Homo sapiens: one gene and its partners. The protein of the gene in region 4 interacts with the protein of the main gene of each other region in a pairwise test. Each region holds a gene or a part of one and is shown on either strand. Other genes may lie near its edges.

Region 1 (7,023 bases), on a different chromosome or scaffold from region 4:
TTTGTTTCAGTTATTTGATACTGAAGGAAGCATTTGTGGATTGCCTTGGGAACCCAGTAACCATATTTAGTATGATTTCTATGGTAAAACTTGTTGAATTAAAAATAAGTAATAAAATTGATAATCTTGACATGCAACCTGTAAAATCATTTTGTGAATAGGATGCATGAATAGGCAATGTATTTGATTGTTAGTTTCATATTTACTACTAGGGATGCATGGGAAATGCATAAAGTGGTGGGCAAGGTCATTCTTCTTTTCCTATTTTTGAATAAAAAATGAAGAGGAAAGTGAAAGAATAAATTAGCTATATAATATATATGTACCATCTGAAATTGTCTCTAACTTTTTATAACTACAGGTTGAGCATCCTAAATCTGAAAATCTGAAATCCAGAATGCTCTAAAATCCAAAACTTTTTGAACACCAATATAGTGCTCAAAGGAAATGCTCATTGGAGCATTTTGGACTTTGGATTTTTGGATTGAGGATGCTCAACTGGTATAATGTAAATATTCCAAAATCTAAAAAAAAAAAAAAAATCTAAAATCCAAAACAATTCTGGTCCCAAGCATTTTAGATAAGGGTGCTTAACCTGTACTTTTAGTTAAAAACAAACCTTTGGAGAAAAACAAAGCTTTTTTTTCTTCTATGTTTTAAAAACAAAGCAGTCAAAAAATCTGAGTGGCATGAATTCTAAAATTTGTAAAGTATTATTTTTGATATTAAAGGAAGATGTAGATTCCTTCATGAAACAGCCTGGGAATGAGACTGCAGATACAGTATTAAAGAAGCTGGATGAACAGTACCAGAAGTATAAGTTTATGGAACTCAACCTTGCTCAAAAGAAAAGAAGGTAAGTGTAAAAATTTCTAAGTTTTGAAAATCTTATATGACTTGAACTTTTAAAAAATTGAGATATAATTTACATATAATAAAATATTCAGATGTCAAGTGTTCAGTCCTCCAAGGTGGCTGTACCATATGAAATTCCCACCAGCAACGTACAAGAGTTCCAGTTGTTCCGTATCCTTGCCAACACTTGGTATTGCCAGTCTAAATGTGGTTTTGAAAACATAATAGAATGGTTGTTAAAGACTGTATTCCAAAGCTTTCAAAATCATAACGTCTTATATGTCTAGTTCATCCTTCTAATTTTGCCAGTGAGATTAGAGACCCACAGAGTCTGGGCATAAGACTTAATTAGTTATGAAATCCCAAGATTTCATAACTAATAGGCATAGGAAAAAAGCTATCCTTACTCTCAACTCTTTATTTCCCTACATTATTTTATATAGCTTATAAAGTCAATTCACTGTAATAAATATTTATAGATCTCTGTTTTGTGCATGTGCCAGCATTCTTCTGTAAGATAAATATTTATGGAATGCCAGCTAGATGCCACATACTGTTTTGGGTGAAATAACATCCAGTATCTGCTTTCAACAAGGACACAGGACTGGGCATGGTGGCTCAAACCTGTAATTCCAGCACTTTGGGAGGCTGAGGTGGGAGGATCACTTCAGTCCAGGAGTTCAAGACTAGCCTGGGCAACATAGGGAGACCCCCGTCTCTACAAATAATTAAAAAATAATTAGGCTGGGCCCGGCGGCTCGCACCTGTAATCCCAGCACTTTGGGAGGCTGAGGTGGGCAGATTGCCTGAGCTCAGGAGTTTGAAACCACCCTGGGCAACATGGTGAAACCCCGTCTCTACTAAAATACAAATAAATTAGCCAGACGTGGTGGCATGCGCTTGTAATCCCAGCTACTCGGGAGGCTGAGTTGGGAGAATTGCTTGAGCCCGGGAGGCGAAGGTTGTAGTGAGCCGAGATTGTGCCACTGCACTCCAGCCTGGGCAACAGAGTGAGACTCCATCTCAAAAATAATAATAGTAATAATTAGCTGGGTATGGTGGCATGCATCTGTGGTCACAGCTCCTCTAGAGGCTGAGGTGGGAGGATCGCCTGAACCCAGGACGTTGAGGCTGCAGTGAGATGTGATCATGCCCCTGCACTCCAGCCTCGGCAAAAGTGCGAGACCCAGTCTAAAAAGCAAACAAACCACACAAAAAACTAGGGACACAGTTTGGTGGAAATTATAGGTATATAAATAAAATTAGCACACAAAGTAGAACAGTAGAGGTACAGGGGGATGGTAACTCATTACTTTGTACCAAAGCACCTCATTAACCTGGAGGGGCCAAGGAGGTTCAGAGGAAGCTTCTAAGAGGAACAGATAGCTGTGTAGAATTTCAAAGATTAGTTGTGAGTTTGGAGGCAGACTAAAGTGAGGAAGGGGTAGTCTGGGCCTAAGGCACCATTTATGCAAAGGTACAGAAGTTTGTAGGTATATTTTCTCATTTGATTTTGGTGACAGTTGTACAAAGTTGAATATGTACTGAGTATTAGATGAGATGAAAAGTCATTGACATGGAAAGATGGAGAGTGTTAATGGACAGAAGCAAGATAGAAAACATTAAGAACAGTGTGCTCTCGTTTTGGAAAAAAATGTATGTATGCACAGGAATATCTGGAGAAATCCACACTAAAGGCATATTAACAGTGGTAATCTCTGGGTAGTTAGAATATGGCATTTTTCTTGTTTTTGCTTAGCTGTTTTCTTAATTTTTTACAATGTACATGTACTGCTTTTGTGATAGTAAAAGTTTATTTGAAAAAGAAAAATAAAGCCATTGGATTTGAGATCACCTACAGGGAGGTTACAGATAGAGAAGAAAATGTGCCTTGGGGCGGGGTGCAGTGGTTCATGCCTGTAATCCCAGCACTTTGGGAGGCCAAGGTGGGCGGATCGCTTGAGCCCAGGAGTTCAAGACCAGTGTGGGCAACGTGGCAAAACCCTATATCTACAAAAATTAGCTAGGTGTTGTGGTGCATGCCTGTAGTTCCAGCTACTAGGGAAGCTGAGGTGAGAGTATTGCTTAAGCCAGGGAGGTTGAGGCTGCAGTCAGCTGTGAGTGTGCCACTGCACTCCAGCCTGGGCAACAGAGTGATGATACCCCGTCTCAAGAAAGAAAAAAAGGAAAAGAAAATGGGCCTTGGGACCAAGTCCTGGGAGAGGGGGAAATTTGCGTATCAAACTTAAATTGCTCTTCTAACTAGTAAATTAATGATAGACAAAAACAAAAAAAAGAAAAAAGTTATATTGCTAACTCTACAACTGTGGTATGTAGCAGGATACTCACTCTAGCTTAACATATGGTCTAGGCCTAAATGTGGGGAGAAGGGGTAAAAATTCAAAGCACTTAGGAAACATCAGTGAACGTTGGTGTTCTGGATGAGAACAGTGTTTGTCTAGTGTTTTAAAAGAGAATGGTAGAGTTGGAGATAGTGAGTTAGGAAAATTTTCTTGAGTTTTACCTATTTTAATAGTGGGTTGGTCATTTTTTTGAGACAGGCTTTCTCTCTGTTGCCCAGGCCAGAGTGCGGTGGTGTGATCACAGCTCACTGCAGCCTTGACCTCCTGGGTTCAAGCAATTCTTCCATCTCAGCCTCCCAAGTAGTTGGAGGGCTACTTTTCTCTTTTTATTTTTCTGGAATTTCTCTCACTCCTATGATGTCAGCTATGCAACAAAACTATTTTTGTGTCATGATCTAGTTGTTTTGCAGCAGATGGCTCTATGTAGTTTACATGCTAGCCTTTTTGTTTTTTTTTTTTTTCAATTTGCTATTATTTTATTTAGGATTTTTGAATTTCTGTTCATAAGTGAGTTCAGCCTATTTCTTTCTTTTTTTAATTTTTTTAGTATTGATCATTCTTGGGTGTTTCTCGGAGAGGGGGATTTGGCAGGGTCATAGGACAATAGTGGAGGGAAGGTCAGCAGGTAAACATGTGAACAAAGGTCTCTGGTTTTCCTAGGCAGAGGGCCCTGCCGCCTTCCGCAGTGTTTGTGTCCCTGGGTACTTGAGATTAGGGAGTGGTGATGACTCTTAACGAGCATGCTGCCTTCAAGCATGTGTTTAACAAAGCACATCTTGCACCGCCCTTAATCCATTTAACCCTGAGTGGACACAGCACATGTTTCAGAGAGCACGGGGTTGGGGGTAAGGTTATAGATTAACAGCATCCCAAGGCAGAAGAATTTTTCCTAGTACAGAACAAAATGGAGTCTCCCATGTCCACCTCTTTCCACACAGACACAGCAACAATCTGATCTCTCCTTCCTTTCCCCACATTTCCCCCTTCTCTATTCGACAAAACCTCCATCGTCATCATGGCCCGTTCTCAACGAGCTGTTGGGTACACCTCCCAGACGGGGTGGCGGCCGGGCAGAGGGGCTCCTCACTTCCCAGACGGGGCGGCCGGGCAGAGGCACCCCCCCACCTCCCGGACGGGGCGGCTGGCCGGGCGGGGGCTGCCCCCCACCTGCCGGACGGGGCGGCTGCCAGGCGGAGGGGCTCCTCACTTCTCAGATGGGGCGGCTGCCGGGCGGAGGGGCTCCTCACCTCTCAGACGGGGTGGCTGGTCAGAGACGCTCCTCACCTCCCAGACGGGGTGGCGGCGGGGCAGAGGTGCTCTTCACATCTCAGACGGGGTGGCTGGGCAGAGGCGCTCCCCACATCTCAGAGGATGGGCGGCCGGGCAGAGACGCTCCTCACTTCCTAGACGGGATGACGGCCTGGAAGAGGCGCTCCTCACTTCCCAGAGTGGGCGGCCGGGCAGAGGGGCTCCTCACATCCCAGACGATGGGCGGCCAGGCAGAGACGCTCCTCACTTCCCAGATGGGGTGGCGGCCGGGCAGAGGCTGCAATCTCGGCACTTTGGGAGGCCAAGGCAGGCGGCTGGGAGGTGGAGGTTGTAGCGAGCCGAGATCACGCCACTGCACTCCAGCCTGGGCACCATTGAGCACTGAGTGAGCGAGACTCCGTCTGCAATCCCGGCACCTCGGGAGGCCGAGGCTGGCAGATCACTCGCGGTCAGGAGCTGGAGACCAGCCCGGCCAACACAGCGAAACCCTGTCTCCACCAAAAAAATACGAAAACCAGTCAGGCGTGGTGGCGCGTGCCTGCAATCCCAGGCACTCGGCAGGCTGAGGCAGGAGAATCAGTCAGGGAGGTTGCAGTGAGTCGAGATGGCGGCAGTACAGTCCAGCCTCGGCTCGGCATCAGAGGGAGACCATGCAAAGAGGGCGAGGGCGAGGGTGAGGGTGAGGCTAGCCTTTTTCTTTGTATGTGTTGTAAATCTTGCAGCCTGTCATTTAACTTTACCCTTCAAGCTGTGTAAAAGTTCCTTAGTATTTCATGTGTTAATCTCTTTTTCGACACTTGAATCTGAGATCTTTTATCTTTCTTTAATTGGAAATTTTGTGATTATCACTTTTTCTATCGTCTGTTAATTTTTTTTCCTCTTTCTTTCTGGGATTCCTGTTTACAGATGTTGACACTTCTAATTCTGCCTTCCATTTATTTATATTATTTCCCTTTTTTCTGTCTTTGTCATTTATCTTTTGGCAATTAGATGGATAGCCATGAGTTCTTTGTTTCAGCTGTTAAGATTTTTATAGCTGGTAGTTCTGGTTGGTTCCTCTTCATATTACCAATATCCTTTCTTTTCTCTTTGTGGTATCTTTAAGTATTTAATGTATAGTTTTATCTTTTGGTATTTGTTAATTTTGTTTCATATGGTAGAGGTTGTTGAATTTATTGTCTTTATTTATTATAATGATCAAATTATAATGTCTTTTCCCTGTCAGCTTAGATTCCCTCAGGGATATCAGCTACTTTGGCCAGTAATGTACGTGGAGGTGGGGGTAATTTAAGTCACTCCTGGTGGGTAGCAGTGGCGCTACCTCGGCTCACTGCAACCTCCACCTCCTGGATTCAAGGGATCCTCCCGCCTCAACTTCCCAAGTAGCTGGGATTACAAGCATGCACCACCACGCCCAGCTAATTTTTTTGTATTTTTTTTTAGTAGAGACTGAGTTTCACCATGCTGGCCAGGCCGGTCTCGAACTCCTGGCCTCAGGTGATCCACCCGCTTCGGCCTCCCAAAGTGCTGGGATTACAGGCGTGAATCACTGTGCCCAGCCAAGCTACTTTCTCTTCAGGTGAAGCAGGGTAGGGAGGAGTGTATTGCTTGGGCATGTGCTGTGTCATTGGTGGTCTGGTTCCTAAGTTAGCTAGGGCTGCATCTGATTGATTCATTAATATGCTTTATAGCATATTACATATAATATTTATATATACAGAATGCATCTTAAAAGTCATTTACATGACAAAAAATCTTGATCTGAACATACTCCTTATGTTGTGTGTGTATCACATATTTTACAAATGTATAACATCTTTCTGTTTACCTATATGAACATATCATGCAAAAATAAGCAAACTTGAGCAATCTATGGCATCCAGATTGAATTGTAGTGAAAAAATGAATGCTAGGTGTTTCTAGATTATTCACTGGACTGTATTATCAAATGATGACACTATGTTTTTTTCTTAAGCAGCAGGCTCATTTAACACATTTCTTGCCAGGTCAGTAGCACAGGGTGTAGTAAATTTGCCCTGCCAACCTGCTGCACACATGGAGTGACTTCTTTTATGTGACGCAATAAGTTCATTTTCATTGTTGTGTTTATATTTTGTTTACATTTTGGTCTCTAATAATATTTAGTAAATTTACCTCGAAAGAACCAGAGCTTCGTTTTTATATCCTTAGTCTGTTTTGCTAGAAATTACATTTGACAGAGACCCTAGAACTGTTTTGCATATATCTCCATGCAAAACACATGCATCTAATTACCATAAAGAGCTAAACCCCAGTGACAAAAACGGTATCATTGTTTTCTCTCTTTAATTGACTGAATGTTTTTAGCATACTGTTTTTCTCTTATGTTCTTGTCAGTGAGGTTGATTGCATTTGGGAGTCACTTACTAGCATTTTGCTAGTAGCTATCATATAACTTATCCATTAAGTCGGATCAGTTGTATCATGTCCATCATTGTTTTTTTAAATTTCTTGTGTTTAAATCAGTGATCCATTTATAATTTTAAGAACGATCGTT
Region 2 (7,697 bases), on a different chromosome or scaffold from region 4:
CATGCACCTGCAGTTCCAGCTACAAAAAGAAAAGCCTGAAAGAATGAAAGATTAATAGAGAATAGAATGACTGATCAGCTTAGTGACCACAAGATTCCAGTATAAAATCTTCAGTTAAAAGCTATCAGGTAAGGTTAGAATCCACAGAACCCTACACATTCATAATTGTTCAGGTAGAATTTTTTAACTCTCCATTGTAAATAAGTACAAAGAGCAGGGCCATATGCGTCACAGCCATTATCTTTATGCCTGGGTCTAGATTTACGAAAGAAGGAAGGCTTAAGGACTCACAGAACTGAATTTATCCTTAATATACCAAAGTATTTTTAAACAAAAGTTGATGATTCTGAAAAAGATGAGAATTATTTTAGTTCTCAGAGCTGCAACTTCACCTTGAACTGCTGGGTAGCATTTTCCTTTTGGTCCCCCGGTAAGCATCTTCCATCTGTTTTTCCAGTTCTCTTATTTTCCACATATCTGATTCCTCCTGAATCTAGAATTTTTAAAAAGGAAATAAAAATAAGTTACTAAAAATAACTTTACATTACAGAAAAGTAACTAACTGGCCGGGCACAGTGGCTCACACCTGTAATCCCAGCACTTTGGGAGGCCAAAGCAGGCAGATCATGAGGTCAAGAGTTTGACACCAGCCTGACCAACATGGTGAAACCCCGTCTCTAATAAAAATACAAAAATTAGCCGGGCGTGGTAGCATGCACCTGTAATCCCAGCTACTCAGGAGGCTGAGGCAGGAGAATCGCTTGAACCCTGGAGGCAGAGGTTGCAGTGAGCCGAGATTGCACCACTGCACTCCAGCCTGGGCGATGGAGTGAGACTCTGTATCAACAAAAAAAGAAAAAAAAAAAAAAGCAACTAACTGAAAATACAATCTGACTAATTATTGGGCTACAGACTGGGCTATGATCAGGAACCTGGAAAACAAATTGGTTTCTCTAGAAAGTGGCTGAACAGTCCAATCCAGTAAATCTCAAATATGTGGAAATCTTCCCCAATAGAATTTTTAAACCGCTGCACAGACAAACATCACCTTATCAATCTTGCAATTATGCTGCGATTAGCAAATGATAATGCCACATTTCCAAAATGCAATATGATTTTAATTATATCATCTCAATTGAACCTTAAGCAATCTCATGAGGAAAATATAGCAGCTACCATTATTACATTTTACTGTAAAGAAACAAAAGCTCAGAGATTTTAACAAAGTCAAAAAACTAGTAAGGACAGGTCTTTAAACTCCCTAAGCTAAATCTCTTCTGGTAATATTATAATTTTTGTCAAAAATAAAATAAAATAAAATAATCAGTATGGCTGCTAGGGAATTTCTTGAAAAGCAGAATGTGATTACCCAAAGAACACATTTTATTTCTAAGTCTTCCTGCATAATTTCATTAGATCTGTGCTAGATTTATCTTTTTCTAGCTACCATTTTAAATCTAAGCTTACTATATAACTAGGGGCAGGTTAACATAATTGCATAGGCAGCTCGGGTAACAGTTTTACCCTCGCCCATAATTTTAAAAATCAGGTGATATGATAATAATAATATGATCAAACCAAAAGTAGTACAGTTTACTGAAGAAAACTAAACCAGGGGCCTTGGCCCTCTTTTCATTATATGTGCTCTCCTAGGTGACCTCATCTACTCTCATGACCTCTTATCATCAACCTATACATCAATAATCCCGAAACCTTTATGTCCAGCCCCAACTTTTCTCCTCTACTCCAAGTCTGAATTTTCAACTGCTTGGACATCCTATAAGCACCTCACCATCAACATGTTGAAAACCAAACTAATTACCTTTCCTATCATAATTGTCCCATTTTTTGTTCTTTATCTCAATTAACAGAATTGTCATCATCTACCCAGTCACATAGGTGGTTACACAGTTGACCTTGAACAACAGGAATCTCAACTGTGCAGGTCCACTTATCCTCAGATTTTCTTCCACCTCTGCCACCTGTAAGATAGCAAAACAAGTCCCTCTTCTTCCTCCTCAGCCTACTCAATGTGATTTTCTTAATGAAATGTTGTTTTCTCTAGCTACTTTACTATAAGAATACAGTATATAATACATGTAACATAAAAAATATGTGTTAATCCACTGTTTATGGTATCGCTATGGCTTTCAGTCAGTAGTAGGCTATTGGCACTTACATTTTGAGGGAGTAAAAAGTTATACATGGATTTTCGACTATGCAGGGGGTTGATGCCCCTAGCCCCTGCATTGTTCAAGGGTCAACTGAATTAGATTCCATTCTTATCATTATAATCTAATTAGCCACCAACTTCTTTGGATTCTATCTCCTAAATTCCTCTTCTTCATCCCTGCTGTCACTAATTTCATGCGAACCCTCATCATCTCTCACCTGTAATACTGCAATTGCCTCCTAATTACTCTCCCTTCTGTATCTCCCCATCTGATTCATTCCCTACCCAGCTGACAAACCATCTTTCTAAAATATAACTATGATCATGCCACACCCTGTTTAAAAACATTTGATGGCTTCTTTATTGCCTAGAGGAAGAAGTCTCAGCTCCAAACATCACAATCCAACTCTAATTACCACTGAGGCCTTATCTTCTGCCACTATCCCCTACCTTCCCTGCTTTCTGGATAAATTTCTTGCCATGCCCCAAGTGATTAATGCTCTTTCTCGTTGCCATATTAATGCATGATGCTGTCTATCCAGAATGATATTTCATACCTGGTAAACGTATACCTATTCAAGAACCAGTTCAAAGATCAGCAGCTGAAATACCACTAATTCTGTAAAATCTTTTCTAATTCCCCAGTGTAGATTTTATTATTTCCTCCTTAGTGCTCCAAAGCACTTTGCAAATATCTCTGTTATACAGTACTTATCAAACTGTATTATAATTATCTATTTTATTCATCATTTTATTTCCTACTGTGTACGGAAGCTTCCAAAAACTAGATGACAAGAATATTCTTTGTATCTCCCAGTTGTTCCAAAATAATGCTTGGCACACTGCTTGCCTTCAGTAAGCGTTGAGGAGTAACTAGGTTGTACCTCCCACCTTATTGTGAGCATCTGTGTGCCGGATGACATTCCTCAGGAGGACCTTCCCCAGTGGAATCCGGGACATTCTTCAATCTGAAATGAATCAACAAATAACGTTTAGTAATAATTTCTGTTATTACTTTATCTTTTCTTGAAGTTTTATAAAGAAGCATATGAGGTACAGGAAAGATCACTGAACTAGAAGTCAGAGATTCTAAAGAATAGTTTTCCCTTTACCATTAAAAGAGGGAAATGCCTAAACACACTAATGTGAGATGAAAGGAGATAATGTACATTAAAGTTCTTTGAAAATGCACAAGACTACATAAAATTAAGTGCTTTCATGAGCACCATTTTATTTAATCCTCATAACTACTTTTTATATGAGGCAAGTATCTCCATCCCTATTTTGTAGATGAAGTTCCCTTAAAGCTGTAACGTCCCAAGCCACATAGTCCCAGGCAAATGATGTATGTCACTGTCTAAATTAAAAATCAAACCTCCAATCCCAATATAGTTTGCACTGAAGCAAATACGTAGATTTGAGAGTGTCAGGAACCACGGGTGTCAACAGTAACAGAAACTGATTACTCAAAACATCAAATGCAAAGATGTCCTAAATTTCTCCATTTGGGGGCATTTTATTTCCTACTTGCTACGGAAGCTTCCAAAAACTAGATGACAAGAATATTTTCGTGTGTAGCTAGCAGGAGCTTTGTGCAACCACCCCAACGCTCACTCACCCCTTGATCCTGAGGAAATCAGGCATCTTGCTAGTGAGACGAAGAACCACTCCATTACAAGATCTCCTCCGACCCAGGAAGCCAAGGAGTCAGGGCTCAAAGGCAGCTCTGCAGCTTCACCCGAGTCCTTCGTGAAAACGCAGCCTTCCCACTGGTTACTCTGCCCTCACCTGTGGCCCAGGCCACTGCCGCGTTTCCCCCAGCCCAGACCGACAGGCAGATCTCTCTCCCGGACTGAGGCCGGAGGCTGAGCCGGGGCGGAATTCGGACAGCCCGGTTGACCTGGGCATTCCCCGCTCACGCTCCTCTAGGACGAACCCCGGGGGTAAGTTTCACTCCCCAGAAAGGCTGGGAACGCTTTGGATGGCTACGGCCTTCGGTTGGGCCCCAGAAAGTATCTAGGGAGCCTGAAGCGGGGGTTGAGGTTTCCAAGTGGAAGACAGAGGAAATATCCCCATCTTTGTCACCGGGATCCCTGTTCCCCAGCGGCCTCGGAGCTCCCGGTAACCTTCCCTCCAAACGCCCTCCCCACACAAATACACACAAACACACCCATACCGTGCGCCGCAGCCTCGCGTGGCGGGGGGTAGGGGGGAAGAAGTGGTTTGGGAGAAAAAGGAGGAGACTTCCTTTTCAGGCCGGAAGTCGTGCTCCTGAGAAATCGTCCCACCAACAGGCAGCCCAGAGACTCCCACAAGGGAGGGTTTTCAGGACACTCCAGAGGTTGACGGGTGCAGAAGGAAGGCGGGCGCTTTCCTGGAAGAGAAGTGGGTCAGGCCCAACTGAAAAGCAAGCCTGGCACCAGAAGGGGGACATTCCGGAACTAGATATGAAGAGACTTTTCTCCCTGAAGTTCCCCGGACCCAATTAGATGTTGTACCCAGGCTGGTTACCCTGGTAACAGGCGTCGCGGTTTGTCAAGGAACTGAGAGAAGAGGTGGGTTTGCCAACCTATAGAATGATTACCCGTTAGAACTGAGAGAAGAGGTGGGTTTGCAGACCTATGGAATGATTATCCGTTAGTTAAGTTTCCCGTTTAGCATAACCCTTACACAGTAATTGAAGAATCTAAACCTCTTTTCCTCATTCTAAAGATGCTGTGGGACACCTCTCCAATGGGAGAAGAGGCTAAGGAGATTTATCTGAAGACGTAGAGAAGTGTCCCAGCCTCTCTATTAGCTTACTTAATCTCGCAATAATCCTATGGTAGAGGTATTATCGTCTTCATTTTGAACAGAACATTAATTGCTCAAGGTCACAGAGCTAGTGAGAGATAGAACTAAGACCGGAATCTAGGCATTCTGGCTCACAAGTCCATGCTTTGAAATACTAAACTATACTGAGGATTAAGGAAGTCTTATGTGGCCCTCACCCCACACCACACCTCTGGCAATTTCAGAACTGGGGAGCCACCAGTCAGGTGTTGGAACAAGAAGATCAGGAAACCCAGACTTAAAATGATTACTCTGACTTGTCAGGGTCCAAATAGAAGTAAGGCCTTATCTGAGAGGACAATGTGAGAATTTAGGAAGAGGTACTAGATAATTAAAGAATAAGGAAAACATAAAGTGGTGCTGATCCACAACCTTTTAGACACAAATGCTGTCCTAACTTCACCAAAACAATTCCTGACCCATTCCACCTCCCCAAAGCAGAAATGAATCAATAATTACACAGACAGTTTTCTTCCTGAAGTCGTGTTTTTCCACAGGCTTAAGAAAATTATTCACCACTCATAAGTCATGGAGACATCCTCAAAAGGTCTGCTTACCCAAGTTACTCAGTTTTGGAACCTCCTAGATGATCTAGCTCAGAGTGACCCTGAGGGCTATGAGAAGTTTATTCAGCAGCAGCTGAAAGAAGGGAAACAGCTCTGTGCTGCCCCAGAACCACAGCTTTGTCTACAGACCAGGATTCTGGTATGTCGAGTTGGTGCCAGGGATGGGGAGGTCTTGAATGAAATGATCCCAGAATAACCAGAGAATACTTTACACTTAGGTATTGCTAATTTTTTTTGTTTTTTTTTTGTTTTGTTTTGTTTTGTTTTGTTTTTTGAGACAGAGTCTTACTTTGTCACCAGGCTGGAGTGCAATGGTGTGGTCTTGGCTCGCTGCAACCTCTGCCTCCCGGGTTTAAGCGATTCTCCTGCCTCAGCCTCCCAAGTAGCTGGGATTACAGGTGTGTACTACCATGCCCGGCTAATTTTTGTATTATTAGTAGAGGCGGGGTTTCACCATGTTGGCCAGGCTGGTCTTGAACTCCTGACTTCAGGTGATCCACCTGACTCAGCCTCCCAAAGTGCTGGGATTACAGGCATGAGCCACTGCGCCTGGCAGACTTTTTTTTTTTTTTTTTTTTTTTTTTTTTGAGATAGGGTCTTGCTGGCTCTGTCGCTCAAGCTGGAGTGCAGTGGCACAATCACAGCTCACAATCACAGCTCATTGCAGCCCAAGCGATCCTCCCACCTCAGCCTCCCAAGTAGCTGGGATCACAGGTGGGCATCACCACACCCGGCTAATTTTTAAATGATTTTTGTAGAGACAGGGTCTCCCTATGTTTCACAGGCTAATCTCGAACTCCTAGGCCTCAAGCAACCCTCCTACCTCAGCCTCTCAAAGTACTAGGGTAACATACGTGAGCCACCACCCCAGTCTGGATTCCTAATTAAAAGCCAGCAGCCTTGGGGAAATCAAATAACAACAGTATAATCAAACGCAGTTTTAATACATGAAATGACTTACTTGGAGCCTAAAATTCTTTCATTCCTGTGGTGAGTGGCTTTTAGGATATTATTTTTTAAATGTTTTTGTTTTTGTTTTTTTTGAGATGGAGTTTCACTCTCGTCACCCGGGCAGGAGTGCAATGGCACAATCTTGGCTCACTGCAACCTCCGCCTCCTGGGTTCAAGCGATTCTCCTGCCTCAGCCTCCCGAGTAGCTGGGATTACAGGTATCCACCACCACACCTGGCTAATTTTTGTATTTTTAGTAGAAACGGAGTTTCACCATGTTGGCCAGGCTGGTCTCAAATTCCTGACCTCAGGTGATCCGGCCGCCTTGGACCCCCAAAGTGCTCGGATTACAGGCGGGAGCCACCATGCCTGGCCTTAAATGGTTTTAAACTAGGTTTTGAGATGTGCAAAATTATTTGCTTTCCAGAAACCAAAAGAAAAAATACTTTTTATCAACCTGTGTCAGTGGACAAGGATCCCAGCTCCCCAATCAACCACTCATCCAGTACCTCTAACTGTTGGCAAACCAGAAGATACAACTGAGATATCAGGTACAAATAATTGAGAGAAAGCACATTGTAAAAATTTTATTAGGAATGGACAAGATCTTACTTGGTTGAGAGCATTTCAAGTAAAACTCTTTATTTGTTGATAATATAATTACAATTAGTGTATCTTTATGCAAATTTAATACTGTTTAACTTTTGTAATAAGGTGAGCTGTTTTAATCCATGCAAAAGTGCCAAGAAATGTCATAATTGCTGTAGCACTACTGTGATTACCTCTGAAAAATACAGGAATATTCTCTAGCTTTATCAGGAATATGGTTTAATATATTGCCTGACAGTATCATTAGTGCAACAATTTTTCTTCATTTCATACCCTTTCAATTACACACACAGATGCTTACACAGTCATTGATGTTGCCTACAATCCTGATGTTCTTCATGCAGCAGAAAAGGACCAAGTGAAAAAAAATCAGTTAATTCAGATGGCCATGAAATGCATTGAGGAGAAATTCCAGTTCACCCTCTCACACTCTTACCATATTACCAAATTTAGAATAAAAGGAAGCATTCAAAGAATGAAACAAAATCTGATGGGAATCCAAACTGATTCCATAGATTTAAGAGAAAAAATGAGAAGGGGTAAGTTGATGATTGTAAATGGAAAAT
Region 3 (7,023 bases), on a different chromosome or scaffold from region 4:
TCCAGGGCTCTGTTTCACTCTTTCGGCGCTTGCTAATCACACTGCACATTACTTGATATTTCAGTAACTCTTGTGGTTGTCAGTGATTCTTTCTGAGCTGTCATTTTTGTTGATAATTTTTTTTTTTTTTTTTTGAGACAGGGCTTTGCTCTGTCACCCAGGCTGGAGTGCAGTGTCATGATCATGGCTCACTGCAGCCTCTACCTCCTAGGCTCAAGCAATCCTTCTGCCTCTACCTCCTGAATAGCTAGGACTACAGGTGCACACACCGTGCCCGGCTAATTTTTAAATTTTTTGTAGAGATAGGGTCTTGCTGTGTTGCCCAGGCTGGTCTTGAACTTGTGGCCTCAAGCAGTCCTCCCACCTCAGTCTCTCAAAATGTTGGGATTACAGGTGTGAACAACCATGCCTAGCAATTTCATTTATAAATGCCTCATTTTCAGCTGTGTTTTCATTAGGTCTTTTAGGAGAAAATACTCTGTTCTGCACAAAATTGTCTAGGTTCTGAGTCATAATGATCTTGATGTTTTGTTTCATTTTCTGTTGCAGATGTTGCTGCTATAGCATGTGGTCGTGAATTCTTGGTTAATTCAAGCCGGGTGCTCTTGGACACCATATTGCAGCTTCTGGGAGACTTGAAGCCAGGACAGTGTACCAAACTCAAAGTGTATGGTGGATAATGTTAAAAAGTTAATTCTATTTACATATTAATTAGACTGTGCTGATTGGGCCTCTCTTCAAGTAAACACAGTTAATTTTGGTGGTAGTTTTAAAAACTAGAAGAAATAAATTCCTGGAGAAGTTAAGGGCGTGCACTGTCTCTTAAATAGCATTTTAGAAAATAAATTTAAGGAAGGAATGTTCTCACCTTAGAGCAATCAGTGAGTCCCAGTATTATCACATGGTACTTCATGGGTATGTCAAAATGAATTTAAATAGGTATCTGTCTTCCAGCTACTAAAATCTGTATTTGTTTTCTATTTTTATGTAACAAATTATCACCAACTTGGTGGCTAAAACAACACCATTTATTATTTCATAGTTTGGCAAGTCAGAAGTCTGAGTGGGTTTGAGAGGTTCTCTGCATAGGTCAAAAGTGAGGTGTTTTCCAGGGTGGGATCTTTTCAGAGAATCTAGGGGAGGAATCTGCTTCTGGGCACTTTGAAGTGGCTGGTAGAGTCCAGTGTCTTGGTTTCTAGGAGCGAGTTCCCTGTTTCCCAGCTGGCTGGTCAGCTGTGGGTCAGCTGCTGAGGCAGCTTGCATTGCTTCTCACAGGGACCCCATCTTCAAGCCACAGTCGCTCATTGAATCCTTCCCACGTTTCCAGTCTCTGAGACTTCCTCTTCTGCTACCAGCAAGATGAAACTCTCTCTGCTTTTATTCTTTTGTTAAAAAGTTTACTTCAAGAAGGCAAAAACTCTGCTTCTTATAGATTTGTGTGTTTAGATGAGGCATACCTGGATAAACTCCTTTTGATTAACTCTTGAGTCAGCTGGTTAGTAACCTTAATTACATCTACAGAATCCTCTTTTCCAGGCAATGACATAATCAGCGTGTGATAATTTATAGTCCCAGAGATTAGGGCAGGAAATCTTGGGGAGAGGGGCAGTGTAGGATTCTGCCACTCACACTGTTCGTTCTGAGTGTTGCCTTTGACTTCTTAGAGCATCTTTATTTTTTAATTATTTTTTTAAAGAGACCGAGTCTCTACAGACCTTGCCTAGGCTGGCCTCAAACTCCTAGGCGTTCAAATAATCCTTCCACCTCAGCCTCCTGAGTAGCTGGGACTACAGGCATGTGCCACCATCCCCTGCTGTGGAGCACTTTTTTTTTTTTTTTTTTTTTTGAGACGGAGTCTTGCTCTGTCACCCGGGCTGGAGTGCAGTGGCGTGATCTCGGCTCACTGCAAGCTCCGCCTCCCGGGTTCACACCATTCTCCTGCCTCAGCCTTCCAAGTAGCTGGGACTACAGGCGCCCGCCACCACGCCCAGCTAATTTTTTGTATTTTTAGTAGAGACGGGGTTTCACCGTGTTAGCCAGGATGGTCTCAATCTCCTGACCTCGTGATCCACCCGCCTTGGCCTCCCAAAGTGCTGGGATTACAGGCGTGAGCCCCTGCGCCCGGCCTAGCACTTTTAAAAAGTAAGAGCTTCTGTAAAGTCTGTGCCAGGTGCTTCCAACACCTGTGTCATCCTGGCCTCGGTGTCTCTTGATTGTTTTTTCCCATGAGAGTTGAGATTTTCCTGTTTCTTCATATGCCAAGTAATTTTGGATTTATCCTGGACATTTACGTGATCACTGGTCTTGTTTAAATCCTTGGGAAATGCTGGTGTTTATATTTTCACAGGCAGTCAACCCCTTTGGGTCAGATTCCAGCCAGCCTTTTCTCTGTTTGGTTTCAGTGTGTCGTCCTGTTTTCAGAGTCTTTACAGTGCTATTGGAACTGCCCCTCGTGAGTGCCGCCCAGTGGCCAGTCTGAGACCTGGGTGGTCTGGATCTTAGGTTCAGAGTCTTTCAGATACTGTTTATGATCAGATCCACACAGGCACAACTTGGGATGAGGCCAGGAATTTATAAACAACTTTTTGGGGTCACTTTTCTGAGCTGTTAACTCTCTGGGTACACTTTAGTTACCTGGGACTGCCTTTTTCAGTCCCCCACCTGGAATGCTGGGGCTTCATATACCCTGCTGTGTCCAAGTGCCTGCAACTCTGCCCTCATCCCGCCCTGCGGCAGGAGTTGAGAAGCTCTTAGAGCTTTCAGGTGTAAGGAAAAAATTCCTTTCCCCCAGAGTTTGAGTTACCTGGGGGATGTCCCCACTGCTACCGTGCTTGGTTGCTGGCAGGAGACCCCTTTCCCACTCCTTGAGCCTCACTAGAGACCTTCTCCTGGTGCTCTCTGTGTGGCTCAGGGCTACTTTTGGGTTTTGGAGCTCCCTCGAGTCCAGGCCAGGGACACTAAAGGAAAAAGTGGTAAACTCTCTGCTGGTTTAGTGGTTCTTAAAATTTTGATCTTCTTCCCCTATCTGCCTGCTACTGTTTACTTTTCAGAGTCCTCAAATAGCTGCTTCATGTATTCTCTTTGGAATTTATAGCTGCATTCAGTGGAAGCGAGACTGGAGGGTGTGTTCAGGCCATCTTATCCAGAACCAAGCTTTCTAGTCCATTTTAATATTTTGTGCTAACAAATATCTATACATACATAATACATATAATACAGTGTAACATATATGCAAAAAAAATTTTTTTTTTGAGACAGAGTCTTGCTTTGTAACCCAGGCTGGAGCACAGTGGTATGAACATGGCTCACTGCAGCCTCGACCTCTTAGGCTTAAGTTATCCTCCCAGCTCAGCCTTCTGAGCAGCTGGGACCGTCAGTGCATGCCACCATGCCTGGCTAATTGTTAAATTTTAAAAATTTTTTTGTAGAGACGGGGTCTCTCCATGTTGCCCAGGCTGGCATAGATGGTTTTGTTTGGGGGTATAATTTTACAAATTGCTTGTGGATCTAGTTCATTCCTTTTAAGTACCTTGCATCAAAGGAGATGTAATATTTGGATTATCCTTCCCTGACTGATGGGCATTTAAGTTACTTTCGGGTTTTACTTGACAAATATAATGCCGTAGTGAGCATCCTTGATAAACTCTTTGCTAACCTGTCTGAGAGTTCTCCAGGAGTTTTCCCAGAGGAAATATTTGAGAAGTAGTACATGGACATTTTCAATTTGATAAGATACTGCCAAATTGGTCACCATAGTGTACATTTCTACCTGCACCATGTCAGTGTTCGTGTTTCCCACGTCCTTGTCAGCACTTTGCTATTTATTATATTCCTCTAAAGAGAAAAAATATATGTGTATATGGAGAGAGAGGTGCCGGGGGAAGAGGGGGAGAGACAGGGTCTTGCTGTGTTACCCAGGCTGGAGTGCAGTGGTGCAATCACGGCTCACTGCAGCCGCGACCTCTGGGGCTCAAGTGATCCTCCCATCCCAGCCTCCCAAGTAACTGGGGTCCCAGCTACTCTGCACGCCACCATGCGCAGCTAATTTTTTTTTTTTTTTTGGTATTTTTTGTAGAGACAGGGTCTCACCTTGTTGCCCAGGCTTGTCTCAAACTCCTAAGCTCAAGTGATCCACCTGCCTCAGCCTCCCAGAATGTTGGGATTACAGCGTGAGCCACTGGACCTGGCCTTAAAGAGTATTTTTATCATCCACCTATCATCTGTCTGTCTTTGTCCTTCTCTCCCTTCCTTCAGATTTAGATTGCCAGTGAGGTTGAGGCTCTTCACATGTTTGTACCATTCCAGTTTTTCCTTTGAGTCACCTGTCTGTGTCTTGTGCCCACTTTCCTGTTGGGCTGCATTTTTCTTAGTGATCTGCTGTAGGTCTTTGTGTGTTCTGGATACTAATCCATTGCCTCTTTTGCTTCTGTGGTCTGTACAAGGTCCATATTTATGGGCCAGCTAAAGTCCCCCTTCAACTTCCAAGGCAAAGCTGTGTGTGAGGGCTGGGTCACTTCTAGCCTCTCCGGTTCCAGTCCCTGGAGCTCTGTGCCTTTGGGTCCTGGTGAGCTCTTGTTGATTGCAGTGGGAGATGGGGAGAATTGCCTTCAGAGCCATTCACTGACTTTCTTGGCAGTCTTCCATTTGGCCACTGAGCAAAGCCGCGTGTTTACCCTCTATCCTGACTCGGGATCTCAGCATGCACCAGCCTGAGAGGGGCCTTCCCCCTGGGATCTTTGGCTGCCTTCCAACATGCTCATGGCTTGTTCCGTCTCACCACATCTCCAAGGCACTCTTCTCCCCTCTTTTCACCTCCCCCACTTCACTAACGCCCACCCTTGAGTCCTCTGGAGCCCCAAGACCTTTCTCATACTATAAATCAGCCTCTTTTCTTCCTGGCCTCCCCCTGCCTTGTGTATAGCTTGCCTCTCTCTGGGGAACTACACTTTCACTGCCACTTTCATGATCGAAGGTCACTCATTTTCAGCAGTTAGTACCTTAGACCCAGAGATAGGGGTTATTTTTTTCCTAGTTGCCCATTTTTTAAAAAAATTTAAATTTAAATTTTAGATTCAGGGGGTACATGTGCAGGTTTGTTACAAGAGTATATTGCGTGATGCCAAGGTTTGGGCTTCTGTTGAATCTGTCACTCAGATAGTAGATATAGTACCCAATAGGAGATTTTTCAGTCCTTGTTCCTCTCCCTCCCTCTCTCCTTTTGGAGTCTCCAGTGTCTCTTGTTCCCATCTTTATGTCCGCGTATACCAAGGGTTTAGCTCCCACTTATAAATGAGAACATGCAATATTTGGTTTTCTACTTCTGGATTAATTCACTTAAGATAAGTGGAGGCAGCCTCCAGCTGCATCCATGTTGCTGCAAAGGACATGGTGGTGGTCTTTCTTTCTGGCTGCGAAGTATTCCATGGCTTGTATGTACCACATTTTCTTTATCCAATCCACTGTTGATGGACACCTGGGTTGATTCTATGTCTTTGCTATTTTTGTTTTGTTTAGTTTTGTTTTTGAGACAGGGTCTGGCTGTTCCATTCACACTGGCATGCAGTGGTGCTATCTTATCTCACTGCAGTCTGAAAATCCTGGGCTCAAGCAATCCTTCTGCCTCGGCCTCCCAAGTACTTGGGATTACAGGCATGTGACATCATGCCTGGCTAATTAAAAAAAATTTTTTTTTTTTTGGTAGCGATAGGGGTCTCACTTTCTTGCCCAGGATAGTCTTGAACTCCTGAACTCAAGTGATCCTTTCACCTCAGCCTCCCAAAGTGCTGGGATTTCAGGCATGAGCCACCACTTATCTTTGCTATTGTGAGCAGTGCTGTGATAAACTTATAAGGGCAGGTGTCTTTTTGGTAGAACAATTTTATTTTCCTTTGGCTATTTACCAAGTAATGGGATTGCTGGGTTGAATGCTAGGTCTGTTTTTAGTTCTTTGAGAAATCTCCAGACTGCTTTCCATAGGTGCTGAATTAATTTACATTCCCACCAACAGTGTATACGAGTTCCCTTTTTTCAGTGGTTTTGCCAACATGATGTTTTTTGACTTTCTAGTAATAGCCATTTTGACTGGTGTGAGATAGTACCTCATTGTGGTTTTGATTTGCGTTTCCCTGATGACTAGTGATGTTGGGCATTTTTTCATGTTTCGTTGGCTGCTTATATGTTTTCTTTTAAGAAGTGTCTGTTCTTGCCCTTTGCCTGCTTTTTAATGAGGTTGTGTGTTTTTTCTTGTTGATTTGTTTAACTTAACTTCCCTATAGATTCTGGATATTAGACTTTTGTTGGATCCATAGTTTGCGAATATTTTCTCCCATTCTGTAGGTTGTCTGTTTACTCTGTTGATAGTTTTTTTTGCTGTGGAGAAGCTCTTTATTTTAATTATGTCCCAATTGTCAATTTTCGGTTTTGTTGCAATTGCTTTTGAGGACTCAGTCAAATTCTTTGCCTAGGCCGATATCCAGAAGACTATTTCCTAGATTTTGTTCTAGGACTTTTATAGTTTGAGGTCTTACATTTAAGTCCTTAATCCATCTTGAGTTAATTTTTATCTGTGGTTAGAGGTAGTGGTCCAGTTTCATTCGTTTACATATGGTTAGCTATTTTTCCCAGCACCATTTATTGAACAGGGAGTCCTTTCCTCATTGCTTATTTTTGTCAATGTTGTCAAAGGTCAATTGGCTGTATGTGTGCAGCTTTAATTTCTGGGTTCTGTATTCTGTTCCATTGGTCTATGTGTTTATTTTTGTACCAGTGTTATGCTGTTTTAGTTAGTGTAGCCTGGTAGTATAGTTTGAAGGTGGGCAGTGTGATGGCTCTAGCTTTGTTCTTTTTTCTTAGCGTTGCTTTGGCTATTTGGGCTCTTTTTTGGTTCTATAAGAATTTTAGAAGAGTTTGTTCTAATTCTATGAAAAATGATGTTGGTAATTTAATAGCAATAGCATTGAATCTGTAGATTGCTTTGGGCAGTTTGGACATTTTCATGATATTGATTCTTCCAGTCCATGAACA
Region 4 (7,173 bases):
GGAAAGAGGGACAGGGGCCCCCACCCGTCACCACGCCCCAACACTCCCCCCGAACCAGAGCCGTGCACTTGTGCCTGGTAGGAGAGAGACAGGACAGACCCGCTTTTCCCGAGACAAGGACCCCCCATGTCACGGCAGCTTCACAGACGCGGCTCGCGCCCACCGGGGTCCTGGCGGGTGGGACCCGCAGCCTCCACGCGGCCCAGGCCAGCCTGCCACCCTCTGGGCCTCCTACCTGTGCCTTTCTCTGAGGGGACACCCCGCCAGAGAGGGCCCCGGGAGCCGGGGGTGGGTACTGAGGCCTGCTCAGGCCCTGGAAGTGAGGCTCTATGGGGTTCCCTGGCCAAGGCGCTGGCCCCCCAATCTCAGGCAGTTGGGGTGAGGCCGTGCCTCTTTGGGGGCTAAAGGTCTTGGGTGGAGGACAGGCCCCTCTGCTGTGCCCCTATGCCCTGTGTGGGCCCAACCAGTGGACAATGGAGTCTGGGGGAGGGGGAACCCCGGGGACATGCCCCCACCCGGGAGGGGCCGGTAACCCCTGGGCTATCTTCTAGACGGGGCGAACCAGGGGTCATTGACCTGCCCCCTGCACAGGGCAGGGACCGAGTGAGCCACTCCTTGTCCCGAGCTCCCGCCCCCACTGGGCCCTCCTTCCTCCTGGTGCTAATTTGGGGACCCCAGGGGCCGCCCCCGGCCTCTTCTCCATCCTGCTTGGACCAGGGTCCTGGGTCTTCCCAACCATACCCCGAGATCAGGCCCCACCTGCCAGCTCTACTGGGCTTGGAGCACGTCCGGGCAGTGGAGGGAGGGACACAGCCTGGGACAGGAAGCCTCTTGGGTTGGAGCAGGAGACCCTCATTTGCCACCCAGACCAATGTGAGCCTGCCCCCAGCCCCCTCTCATTGGAAGTGGCAAGGGGCTTCCCTCCTGGGGGCAGCTACACTCGTCCCCAGAGGCACATTCGTGCACATTCTCACAGACACCGTCTCACACGTTGGCTTTGGACAACCAGGCCCCAACTTGGTCCCTGCCCTAGGGACCTCCAGCCTGGTGCCCAGTGCTCAGGCCACCTCCTGGTCCAGTCACCACCTGCAGCCTCGGCAGGGCAGGTACAGGGGCCACCTCGGATGGGAGCCTGGGTCCCTGCCTCCGCTCTGCCCCTGGGTGGCTGGGAGGAGAGGCCCTCTCGGGGGTGACCTGGGCGTCAGCCGTGGAACCCCCTCCTCCTCCCTGGAGTCTGCCTGAGTCCCTCGAGCCGCGAGCCTTCGCTGAAGTGCCCTTGCTATAACCCCCTCTGCTTCTGGTGTGTGACGAGGCCCCCGATGTTCTTGATTTTCCCAGAGAAGCAAATAAACAGCGTGAACAGCCCCAGTTCCTGGAGTTCTTGCCTTTCAACCTGGCGAGGAAGGCGTGGCCAGGCCAGGGGGTGGGGCCTGCCGGCCTTTGAGCCATTAAAGGGAGGCTGAGCAGGGTTGCGGTGTGCTGGCTTCACCTGCCTGCACCCGCTCACCCTGAGCGCCTTGGGGTGGTGGGAGGCGCTGGAATCCCCACTGTGCAGGTAAGGCCTGGCTGTAAGGGGCTGCTGTGGGGGGGCAGGACTGGCTTCCCGGGGGGCCCTCGGGTTCTGCGGCCGCCCCGTCCTGTCCTTTGTTCCTCCCTTTGCTGGGCTCACAGCCCCTGGGTGATGACAGAGGGTCCCCTGGACACCCACAAGCTCTGTAGAGAAGCCGGCCCCTGGGAAATACACAGGAGGCCTGGGGAGGAGGTGTCTGTAGAGACCAGTGTCATGCTCACGGGAAGGTGCTGCCCCGCCAGCCCCACTCTCTCACGCTGTAGTCTTGGAGAAGTCGCTGCCTCCTCTGGGCCTCAGTTTTCCCATCTGTAAAATAAGCCTTCGTGGCCGGGCACGGTGTTTCACACCTGCAATCCTAGTACTTTGGGAGGCCGAGGTGGGCGGATCACAAGGTCAAGAGATCGATACCATCCTGGCCAACATACTGAAACCCTGTCTCTACTAAAAATACAAAAACTTAGCCGGGCGTGGTGGCTCACGCCTGTAATCCTAGCTATTCAGGAGGCTGAGGCAGGAGAATCGCTTGAACCTGGGAGGCGGAGGCTGCAGTGAGCTGAGATCGTGCCACTGCACTCCAACCTGGGCGACAGAGCGAGACTCTGTCTCAAATAAAATAAAATAGGCCTTCGGAGCCCTGAGTGGGAGGCCAGCCTCAGCCTGGGCGTGGGACGTCTCCACAGTGCCCCCAGCTCATGGGCGATCCAGCCTCCACCCTGCTGGGGCCTCAGTTTTCCCCGATGAGGTGGTGAGTGTGGTGGAGAGCACTGCTGAGGGAACTCAGGTTCCAATTCCAGCCTAAACCCCCGCCATTCCTGAGGCGCGATTTTAAGCTTTCCGTACCTCCGTTTCCCTATCTACAAGCCAGGGAGAAAAGGACGTGAAGGGGGTGGCGGGAGGCGGCGGTGGGAGGCGCCGTGAGGCCGCGCACCCTGAGCTTTCACACACCCAGCAGCGTTAGGTGCCACGCTGTCCTTTGGGGGCCCTTTATCCAGATTTGTCCTTAAACACCCCCATCTTGGCCAGGCGCCGTGGCTCGCGCCTGTAATCCCAGCACTTTGGGAGGCTGAGGCGGGGGCATCACCTGAGGTCAGGAGTTCGAGACCAGCCTGGCTAACGTGGCAAAACCCTGTCTCTACTAAAAATACAAAAATAGCTGGGCGTGGTGGCTCATGCCAGTAATCCCAGCTACTAGGGAAGCTGAGGCAGGAGAATTGCTTGAACAGGGGAGGTTGCCGTGAGCCGAGATCGTGCCACTGCACTCCAGCCTGGGTGACAAGAGCGAGACTCCGTCTCAAAAAAAAAACACAAAAAAAGCACCCCCCTCCTGAGCAGCCCTGCTGGATTCGTAGCTGGGGGCCTTTTTACTCGAAGAAGAGACTGAGGTTCAGAGGGGCTCCACAAGCAGCCCCTCTGGCGTAGGTCAGGACAGAGCCCCAGCCTGGGGAACTGAAGTCCCTGCCCCCTCAGCTGTGTTCCCTGCCCTCATAGACGGCGCTAGGCCCAGTGGCCCGACTTCCCCACAGATGCTGGGCTCCCCACAGTCCCAGCAAGGCCTCTGCACCTTGACTAAGAATCCAGGAGGACCATGGGCGCCTGAGGGCCTCTGCGTCCCCATCTCTCGGGGTGGCCTGGGTCTTTTGACGGCCTCGTGCGGTTCTTTTTTTTTTTTTTTTTTTTTTTTTTTTGAGTTGGAGTTTTGCTCTTGTCGCCCAGGCTGGAGTGCAGTGGTGTGATCTCGGCTCACTGCAACCTCCAACTCCTGGGTTCAAGTGATTCTTCTGCCTCAGCCTCCCAAGTAGCTGGGATTATAATAGCGTGCCACCATACCCCGCTAAATTTTGTATTTTTAGTAGAGACGGGGTTTCGCCATGTTGGCCAGGCTGGTCTCGAACTCCTGGCCTCAAGTGATCCGCCCGCCTCGGCCTCCCAAAGTGCTGGGATTACAGGTGTGAGCCACCAAGTCCGGCCCCCTCGTATGGGTTTTTATGTGGATGGGGCCTAGGGAATTCCTCCCAGCAGCCCTGAGGGAGCCCGGGCGTGATGTTCCCCCACGTCCCGGAGGAGAAAACAGGGCTAAGAGAGGTCAGGTGGGATCAGAACCCAGGCCACACCAAACCCCCCCGAGTCTGCCAAACCTGGTTTATGCAAGAAGGGGGCCATCTAGGGGAGTTGCCCCAAGGGGTGGGCTGGGCCAGAAGGCACGGACGGGATTGGGACTCAGCCCCTCCGGCCCCCCAGGAGACACAGGCCACTGTGCACGCTGAGCTGCTGTGTGGCCCTGGACACCTGCTGACCCTCTCTGAGCGGTGCTGAGAGGCGGTGGGAGGGCCAGGCAGCCAAGGGAGGTTTCGGCTGAGTTCTGGCTCCTCGGGGCCACCTGGAGGCCCTGGGGGTGGAGGGGCAGCCGGCAGCGGGCACGGTGCCCGCCCTTGCCCAGCCTGGTATCCTCTTTCTCCCTCCTCCTCCTCTGGACTTTGTTTCCTGATCCCAGGTGGGGCTGGGGGGAGGGGGCACACCTGCCTCCCCTGGGTGGGGCCTCTGTTCCCTGGCAACCTGGCGGGCAGGGCGGAGCTGGGAGGCCTCTGTGCCCATCGAGGAGTCAGAGTGGAGGCTGCAGACTGTGGAGCCGGGAGCCGGCAGGTGAGGCTGGGGGCGCCCCGGGCCGGGCCGGGCGGGGATCCTGTGTGGGGCGGTTGGATCCACATTTGGCGTGGGAGCGTCATGTGTCTGTGGGCGGGGTCTGCTTGCCTGGCGGCACTTGGGATCCAGGGAGGCCCCCTGCCCCACCCCGTCACCCTCGGAGCCTCCCTGAGGCACCTTTCCCTCTGCCCCCGCTAGGTACTCTGGGGCCTCAAGGGCACCCACTGGGAGAGCAGAGAGGCCCTTGTCCCTGAACTCTGCTGGGGCTTTTGAACCCCAAATCCCAGAGCCCTCCAAGGGAGGGGCCGGGTTGGCACCCCCATGGTCAGAGGCCAGAGGGGCCCCTCCATGGTTCTGGGAATTCCAGAGGCTTCTGGAGAGATGCTTATCCGTCCCACCAGGCCCCTGACTGGGAGGCTCTGGGCAGTAAACACCCCCGTGGGGCTGGGGGCTGGTTTGGGGACACGGAGGAGGGGTGGCTGAGTACAGGCGGAAGGAGTCTCAGGCCGGGGCTGGGGACTTGGCCTGGGTCCTCGGGTGGGGGTGAGGTGGTAGCCTGGGATCCCGGGCAGCCAGCAGGGACTCGGCCCAGCGTCTGCCGGTGGAGCTCCGCCCAGGAGCCCAAGGAGCTGAGATGACTCAAGGGTGACTGCAACCCTGAGGGATGGGAAAAAGGAACGGGGCCCTCCCTTCTGCATGGCCTCCTTGTCTGAGTCTCGGCCCCACAAGGGAACCTTTGCCCCTCACATAGAGCCAACTGGCTGATGAGGAAGGAGGTGTGGCACCAGGGTCCATAAACCCAGTTTCATTCTGGTATCAACAGAGTTCAGGGTGAGGCTGGGAGGAGCAACCCAGGGGGCTTCCTGTAGGAGGGGGTGATTTGGAGCAAAGTCTGAAAACTGGCTTCAGACACTTGCTCTGTCATCGCTGTGTGACCTCAGATGAGCAGGTTCTCCTCTCTGGGTCCCAGCTCCCTCTCTCGAAAACCGGAGTCGAAAACGGTTCCAAGGTGTTGCAGGAAGAGTCTCAGGACGCCGAGGTCCTTAGCCACCGCCGGGCCTTGCAGGGGCCATCTTCCGTCCTGGGGCTCTTCCCCCGAGGGCAGCGCCGCTGCCCAAGAATGCCGGCCATGAGAGCCGCCGTGGATCCAGGGGTTTTTTTGGCCGACACAGTGAAACCCCATCTCTACTAAAAATACAAAACTTAGCCGGGCGTGGTGGCGGGCGCCTGTAGTCCCAGCTACTTGGGAGGCTGAGGCAGGAGAATGGTGTGAATCCGGGAGGCAGAGGTTGCAGTGAATGGAGATCGCGCCACTGCACTCCAGCCTGGGCGACAGAGGGAGACTCTATCTCAAAAAAAAAAGCGGGGGGCGGGGGTGGGCACTGAGGCACAGGCAGCAGGGGAGGGGGCCCAGTGGCCTTGAACCCAAGAGCTGGACCCCAGGCCCCACCCGCTGGCTTCAGTGAATCACTGGGGAGGAATGAGCAGAGGAGGATGCGTGCCTTCATCCCCACCCAACCCCGACCCCACTGGGAGACCCGGCACCTGCTCGAGGCTGGGCGGACAGCTCCCTTTCTCCCGGAGTTGACGTCTGATGTGGGTTATAAATCCCGCTGTGTAAACGTCTGTCCACTCACTGGGCAAACATTCCTACACCCGCCCTCCCCGGGGAGCTCCAGGGTGCAGGGCGTGGACCTGCCCAGCCCTTCAGGGCCAGAAGGCACGGTGGAGCCGGTCTGCATTCCGCAATGAGCCCGACCCCCACGTCTGAGCAGCTGGGATGAGTGGTGTTTGCCCAGCCAGTATTTATTAGGCGCCTGCTGTATACCAGACTCTGGGCTGCAGGAAGGGTGCTGACCTGTGGCCACAGCAGGCGAGAGCGAGGCCTGGGCTGACGGTTTCGGGTGGGAGAAGGCAAGGCCTTCCGTGAGCTGGGCAGGCGGCGTCCACGGAGGAGGAGGCCTCGGGTCAGGGGAGCCATCTGTGCGTCACGCTTTGGGAGGAAGCTCAGCTGTTTGTGTGGGATTTATTCACCAATGCCGCCTGGTTTTCAATGTTTCCCCTATTTTAGTTTCTGACATTTGATACGCGCGGAAGATTGCATGACACATTGCGTGTAGTTTCAACACGGCTCCCCACGGTCTCTCCACTTTATGCTGTTTGATGCCACTTTCCAGTTCAGAGAGGGGCTAAGTTTTTCTTTTTTTTTCTTTTTTTCTTTTTTTTTTTTTTTGAGGCGGAGTCTAGCTCTGTCACCAGGCTGGAGTGCAATGGTGCGATCTCAGCTCCCTGCAAGCTCCACCTCCCGGGTTCACAGCATTCTCCTGCCTCAGCCTCCTGAGTAGCTGGGACTACAGGCGCCCGCCAGCACACCCGGTTAATTTTTTTTGTATTTTTAGTAGAGATGGGGTTTCACCATTTTAGCCAGGATGGTCTCGATCTCCTGACCTCGTGATCCGCCAAAGTGCTGGGATTACAGGTGTGAGCCACTGTGCCTGGCCGACCCTGTCTGTTTAAAAACAAAAAAAAATGCTGCTGGTTGGTGTAAAGGCAGCAGATCTAAATAATAGCCTTGGTGGCCCGGGAGCGACAGTCCTGCTTTGTGGGGGTTTGTTTTTCTTTTGAGACAGGGTCTTTCTCTGTCACCCAGGCTGGAGTGCAATGGCACAATCTCAGCTCACCGCAACCTCCACCTCACAGGTTCAAGTGATTCTCCCACCTCAGCCTCCCAAGTAGCTGGGATTACAGGCCTGAGCCCCTGTGCCCAGCCGACAGTGCTTTTTTTAGGAGTCAGGAGCTCAAGCTTTTGAGATCCCTGTGTCTTCAGGTGAGGCTTCCTTTCCTCAACTATGAAAGATGATGTCTGCTGGACACGGTGGCTCACGCCTGTAATCCCTGCACTTTGGGAGGCCGAGGCAGGCGGATCACCTGAAGTCAGGAGTTCAAGACCAGCCTGGCCAACA

What was found.
Region 1: the proteins of MISP (region 4) and VBP1 interact in binary tests that used the Homo sapiens proteins (3 or more experiments, as listed by UniProt).
Region 2: the proteins of MISP (region 4) and PIH1D2 interact in binary tests that used the Homo sapiens proteins (3 or more experiments, as listed by UniProt).
Region 3: the proteins of MISP (region 4) and HSF2BP interact in binary tests that used the Homo sapiens proteins (3 or more experiments, as listed by UniProt).

What each region holds. Positions count from the first base shown.
Region 1 is NC_000023.11:155,219,452-155,226,474, forward strand, and holds part of VBP1 (prefoldin subunit 3), read left to right. Parts: intron 1-731; coding exon 732-856; intron 857-7,023. UniProt on the Homo sapiens protein: Binds specifically to cytosolic chaperonin (c-CPN) and transfers target proteins to it. Binds to nascent polypeptide chain and promotes folding in an environment in which there are many competing pathways for nonnative proteins.
Region 2 is NC_000011.10:112,071,011-112,078,707, reverse strand, and holds the start of PIH1D2 (PIH1 domain-containing protein 2), read left to right. Parts: upstream 1-4,690; 5' UTR 4,691-4,728; exon of another isoform or gene 4,729-4,778; intron 4,779-5,502; 5' UTR 5,503-5,533; coding exon 5,534-5,710; intron 5,711-6,949; coding exon 6,950-7,073; intron 7,074-7,424; coding exon 7,425-7,670; intron 7,671-7,697. Other genes in the region: uncharacterized protein NKAPD1, read right to left, coding at 393-493, 3,065-3,133.
Region 3 is NC_000021.9:43,607,474-43,614,496, reverse strand, and holds part of HSF2BP (heat shock factor 2-binding protein), read left to right. Parts: intron 1-549; coding exon 550-667; intron 668-4,507; exon of another isoform or gene 4,508-4,610; intron 4,611-7,023. UniProt on the Homo sapiens protein: Meiotic recombination factor component of recombination bridges involved in meiotic double-strand break repair.
Region 4 is NC_000019.10:746,962-754,134, forward strand, and holds the start of MISP (mitotic interactor and substrate of PLK1), read left to right. Parts: upstream 1-4,150; 5' UTR 4,151-4,210; intron 4,211-7,173. UniProt on the Homo sapiens protein: Plays a role in mitotic spindle orientation and mitotic progression.